Regions from separate parts of the Homo sapiens genome. Here region 2 is linked to region 1. The links come from fine-mapping of genetic effects on gene expression. A gene starts in region 1. The other region holds a variant in brackets. All regions are shown on one strand. Distances are from middle to middle. Region 1 holds the start of RPUSD4 (RNA pseudouridine synthase D4). Region 2 has its middle 51 kb from the start of RPUSD4.

Evidence for each region. PIP is the estimated chance that this variant, and not a neighbour inherited with it, causes the effect.
Region 2: its variant is fine-mapped to the expression of RPUSD4 in lymphoblastoid cells (GTEx, PIP 0.98).

What each region holds. Positions count from the first base shown.
Region 1 is chr11:126,210,038-126,212,931 of GRCh38, reverse strand. RPUSD4 (RNA pseudouridine synthase D4) reads left to right here and starts at 1,282. Exons shown (of 7, transcript NM_032795.3): 1 at 1,282-1,482; 2 at 1,877-2,042. The coding sequence starts at 1,294. FAM118B (family with sequence similarity 118 member B) reads right to left here and starts at 1,150. Exons shown (of 9, transcript NM_024556.4): 1 at 1,102-1,150. RefSeq lists an enhancer at 1,268-1,497.
Region 2 is chr11:126,159,305-126,162,226 of GRCh38, reverse strand. No RefSeq gene overlaps it. Among named protein-coding and RNA genes, the nearest start is that of RPUSD4, 51 kb to the left of the region's middle. RefSeq lists enhancers at 1,044-1,688, 1,689-2,333. The variant CT/T (reference allele first, on the strand shown) is at 1,647.

The DNA.
Region 1 (2,894 bases):
CCTGCATTCAACTGCCAGATTCATTTCCAGAATTCCACTTTCAAGGAGTCTCTCTGCCCTACTCGAAAAGCTTCAAAGACTCCTCACTACGTATCACCTCTAGTTCAAACTCTTCAACTTGAGTCTTCTATGAGTAGCTCCACCTGATCAACTTTGTTTCTTGTTGGTACGGCTCCCTTCTGCCAAACCCTTTAGGAGGTGTAGAACCCAAATCTAATTCAACTACCTATTCTCTAATAACTCCTCAGGCAGCCTTCATTCCAAGCAGTCTTAAAAAATTGTTCCTTCTATCGTCACAGATCCATTAGTTTTCAGGACATTCTTTCTGAACTCAGCATAAGCTTTCCTCTTAACAAATGGCAGGTATATCCCAAGTTATTTTTAACACTACCATCCCAAACAGATGTTTATCTTCCCAGCCACCCCTGAGTGAAATCAGAGGGAGTCGCCTGCAGTTCGGGCAAGGGAATCCCAACATCGCATCTCGTGAGAGGAGGTATGGTGTGGTTGCAAACTATGGAGAGGAAAAATAAAGGAAACAGGAAAAGTGAAGGTCTGTGCTCCGTTCTTTCAGCTTTTTCTTTAGGAGGAGTAGGGAAGGTAGGGAGGAGACCCCCAAGAAATGAATTCTTGAGGAAGGGCAGAAAAAACACTCACAGTGCTTCCTAAGTAGGAAATAGGTGCTGGGGGCCCTGGATAAGGGAAGGGGCCGTCATCCTTAGGAGAAGGGTACAGGTTACAACGCGAAACAAAGAGGCTGGGAGTTGGAAGATGAAGGGTGGAGAGACTACAGAGATCCGGGCATCCGATCAAGAGGGTCCCCGACGCGTCCCGCAGGGGACTGGCGGATCACCGGAGATTCAGTGGCTAAGAGGGACGGCGTCGGTGCCTAGGAGGGCTCTGGGGCGAGCGTTTATGGGACATCGCTCCTAAGGGGGCGCGGGGGCGGGGAGGAGTTTTTGAGTGGGATCGTGTACCAAAAGGAGAAACGTTTCTCAGACCAGTGCTCTTCTTGAACGGAAATCCCGGGGACGCAGAAAACGTTAAACCGTTGAGGCACCGGCATTTCCCAGCCCCAGCCCGGCTTCCCTACACACTCACCGAGTCTCCTCCAAACGCCACTGCTCCAGCTGCAGCTACCGGCCGGCGCAGCCGCACTGAGCGCGCACCGTCCCCACGTGACTCGCCCAGGCCCCACCCCGCACCACGTGACCTGCAGGGCCCACCCACTCCCGCCTCATTGTAGTCGCCCTTCTCCACGTGGTCTTGGCTCGCCCCGCCCTTCCTTGTAAGATGGCGGCGCCCAGGTGGAGCGCGTCGGGCCCCTGGATCCGGGGAAACGGCCAAGGTTGCGGGAGTCTCTTCACTCTCGTCTCAAAGCCATTTTGTGCCGCTGCCGCTGCCTCTACGGCCATAAATGCCCAGAGATTAGCGGAGAAGCTCCGAGCCCAGAAACGGGAACAAGACACAAAGAAGGAGCCGGTGAGTCCAAAGGGACCAGAACTCCCTAGAGGCAGTGCGCTCATTGGTTTCCCAGACGGGGAGTAGGTAGGAGGGTCCTCTGAGTGAAAGCGTGTGAGTCAATAGCCCGGACGCAAGGTGGGAGAATGGGGAGAAGGCGGAGGGGAGGGGTCAGTAAGGGTACGGTGTTTTCCCGTGAGCTGGATCTTTGGCTACTGTCAGGCTCAGTCCTAACCACTGCGTCGGTACGCAGGTTAGACAGATGGGTATCTCTGCTCTCAAATTAGTCGAAGGCGGCGCGGGTCTGATGCAAAGATAGTCATTCCCTACTCAGATTCTCACCCAGACCTTTATGGAAGGTCTTCTCCACGGCTTCCGCACCAGGCATTCCCCACGGCTCCTTCTTTCTCCCTAGGTGTCCACAAACGCTGTTCAGCGGAGAGTGCAAGAAATAGTGCGGTTCACACGGCAGCTGCAGCGAGTCCACCCCAACGTGCTTGCTAAGGCACTGACCCGAGGAATTCTCCACCAGGACAAGAACCTTGTGGTCATCAATAAGCCCTACGGTCTCCCTGTGCATGGTAAGGACCACGCGGGAAAGGTGGAGGAACCTGCAGCTGCTTTCTGCTACAACCGAGGAAAACTGAGACGTTACTTGTGGTGCACTCTAAAGCCTTGCATTCAAATTAATTAAACTTTTGTAAACTACCGTCCAATATAAGGAACCACCGAGAACACAGAAATAAATAAATAAGACAGTCCTCCCTTTCTAAACATCTGACAGTAAGCAATTCGTAGAATACGCTGTGTGCAGACTACAGGGATCGCTGTAGAGATATACAAAGGCTGTGTGGTTCTAGACTAAAGGTTATCTTCCATCAGAACTGGGAATGAGAAAATGATACATAAGAAAAAAGGGGGTGTGTGTGTGTGTGTGTGTGTGTGTGTGTATGTATGTTGGAGTATATGTAACATACAACCCCAGAGTGACTGGAATTTAGTGGACCTTCAAATGTCTTTCAACAGATGTTGCATGTAGTTGTCAGGGACAGCTGAAGTGAATCAGGAAAGATTGATTTAAAAAATGCATTTGTGAAAGAGGGAAAAGGCCCATTTTAGCTAGAAGAAGGTAATGCTTTTTGGGGAGATACGGAGATAGTTGTTCACAAAGACAAGGAATTAAATCACATCACCAAGTGTTTGTATAATTTTTTTCTCTCTTTATTTTCGCAACAGTTTTTTGCCTTTCCATTCCCCAATGAAGTTGTTTTCCAGATATTTACATTTTATAACGAGAAAGCAAAGTTGGAAAGAGAAGTAATGTGTCCAAGGTCAAAAAAATGGCTAGTAAGAAGAGTAGAGTAGAACCCCAGGAATGTCTAACCCCGAAGTCTATCCTCCTAATCACTCTTATTTAATGCTTCTCGAAGGCC
Region 2 (2,922 bases), 51 kb after region 1:
ATTATGGAAGGCAGTGTGGCGATTCCTCAAGGATCTAGAACTAGAAATACCATTTGACCCAGCAATCCCATTACTGGGTATATACCCAAGGGATTATAAATCATGCTGCTATAAAGACACATGCACACGTATGTTTATTACGGCACTATTCACAACAGCAAAGACTTGGAACCAACCCAAATGTCCATCAGTGATAGACTGGATTAAGAAAATGTGGCACATATACACCATGGAATACTATGCAGCCATAAAAAAAGATGAGTTCATGTCCTTTGTAGGGACATGGATGAAGCTGGAAACCATCATTCTCAGCAAACTATCGCAAGGACAAAAAACCAAACACCGCATGTTCTCACTCATAGGTGGGAATTGAACAATGAGAACACCTGGACACCGGATGGGGAACACCACACACCAGGGCCTGTCATGGGGTGGGGGGAGGGGGAGGGATAGCATTAGGAGATATACCTAATGTAAATGACGAGTTAATGGGTGCAGCACACCAACATGGCACATGTATACACATGTAACAAACCTGCACATTGTGCACATGTACCCTAGAACTTCAAGTATTAAAAAAAAAAGGGCAGGGGGAAACGGAAGCACAGAGAGGTGGAGTGACTTGTTTGCTCTGTTAGGTGCCAGCATCTGCTTCCAGCTCGCCCTGCTTTTGTTCAGCGTGCAGCCCTGAAGCGGATGCTGCCAACCCTGCTGGGTCCCCACCCCACGCCGCTCCAAAGGGGCCTAACTGTGGTCGGCGGGGCGGCATGGGTAGGGTCACCATTCTCTGATGCTATAGGTCAGAAGAGGCAAGCTTAGCCCCACTTTGGACGGAGCCTTCTTCCTCCTCCTCGCCTGGTTGCTGCAGGGTGACTGGGTGTGGGGACTGCAGGGCTGTGAGAGCCCTTACCACATCAGAGCTGGGTTCGCCTCCTGTCCTCAGATGCCCCCTCTGTCCACACACCCCTCTCTCACATGGGCCACTGTTCTCCATGCCCTTTCCTTGGGGCAGTGATCTGTCCTTTGTCAGCCAGGCCGCCTTGGGCCTTGGGAGAGGCTACCGGGAAGCAAAGCCTTGGTTGGCTGCAGTGAAGTGTGGAAGGGGAGGGGACATGCACAGTTCCCGTGTGCCACCCTTGCCTGGAGGTGATGGCACACCAAGGCACTATAGGACATCACGGGCGGTCCTTTCACCTGGCAAATGATCCAACTCATTCTGAAACGACTGCCTCCGTTCTGAAACTCTTTTCCTTCTCTGTATTTATACGCGGGTGAGATGAGGGATGCTGGAGTAAGTACACACCGAAGTCCAAGGGGACAGGGAATCTGGGGAACTGGGGGAGGAGAAACTGAATCACAGACCCCAGAGCTCAGGACCCACCTGTGATGCGTCCCATCCACAGGCCCTGCCGTCCCTGCTCTCCCAGGCTGGCCAAGCCGAGCTTCAACTCACTGCTGAGGCCAAGCAAAGCTGAGAGGATGCTGCGCTGGCTCCCTTGCAGTAAACGGTAGTAGGAAAATGCAGCTGTTTGTGTATAAACTAAAGCTTGTTACAGTCCTGGAAGCTTCCGACTTGGGGGCCCACAGGCTTGGAGTGGAGAACATTGTGGGGAGAAAAATCATGTGTGAGCTGTTACTGCTGGGCC[CT/T]GAGGCTCTGCGGCCCTGCCTGGCCCTCCGTCCTGCTGCCCCGACCTGCCCTGCTGCCCTCCCCTCACTCCACCAGACTCCAAACACAGCCCAGCTGCAGGAACATCAGCCTCTCATTATGTTCCCTCCACCCCTGCACAAACACAGCAGGTGGGGCGTGGGGCGCAGTGGGCGGGGGCAAGAGGCCAGCATGGGATTTGGCCTTTCTCAGGGTGCTGAGAAAGTGTGCCGAGGCAGGGGCCGCCGAGGACACAGTGGAGAGGTGCCCTCTGGGCGGCTTACCATGTGCCGCAGCCCAGCTGGGATCAGACCCCTGCCATCAACAGGCCTGAAAGAGACCCCTGCCCCGTGCAGGGCCTGCAGAGAAAGGTTGAGGATAAGGGCCACTGAGGAAAGCTGCAGCGGTACGGGGGCTCATTCCATTTTGACATTAACTTGGTATGCAAATAACATGCAAATTGGCCCTTTATTGTGTCTTAGTCAATAGCCAGGCATTTTTTATCTTTGGCCTGCAGCTTTGGTCTCAGCAGATCTCAGCAGGTCACCAGGTAGGAGGGAGAGGCTGTCAGCTTTAGAAGGAGGAGGCTGGGAGGGGAGGAATCATTACTTTCCTCTGCCCAGTAGCTGTTACGCCGAGGGGGGTGCTGAGGGGGCAGTGGTGGCAGATAGGCCCTGGGGGTCCCTCTCGGCGGCCTGCTGACTTACAGGCTGGATGTGGTGGGGGCAGGCGAGGGCGGGAGGCTGTGCTGAGCCTGATGGATGGGCCCTGGCGGCAGCTTTGGCCGCCCCGCTGGGGCCAGGGGCCCAGGCTCAGCACGGGAAGGTCAGGCTGAGGGTGCAGGGAGCTCCCGGTCGCTTAGAAAGGCTGCTCATGGGAGGTGGGTATCAATTTCCCAGCTGAAAAGCTGTGGGGAGGGAGGAAGAACAGACCCCATGTGGAAGAGAAGTTACACTCTGGGGGACATGGCCAGAGAGGTCCATCTTGAGTTGTGTTTCTATCTTGTTAAAGGTGAAAATTCCTGGGTTTTGTATGGGTATGGGTGCATGTGTTGAACTTAGTATGCAGGCAAAGAAGATACTGCCTTTCTTATCACCGTCTTCTGCCCTACCCCACTCCCTGCACTCACACACACACTCACCCACTAAGCAAGACACCATACACAGTCATACAAGACACCATACACACACAGTCATATAAGACACCATACACACACACAGTCATACAAGACACCATACACACACAGTCATACAAGACACCATACACACATGCAGTCA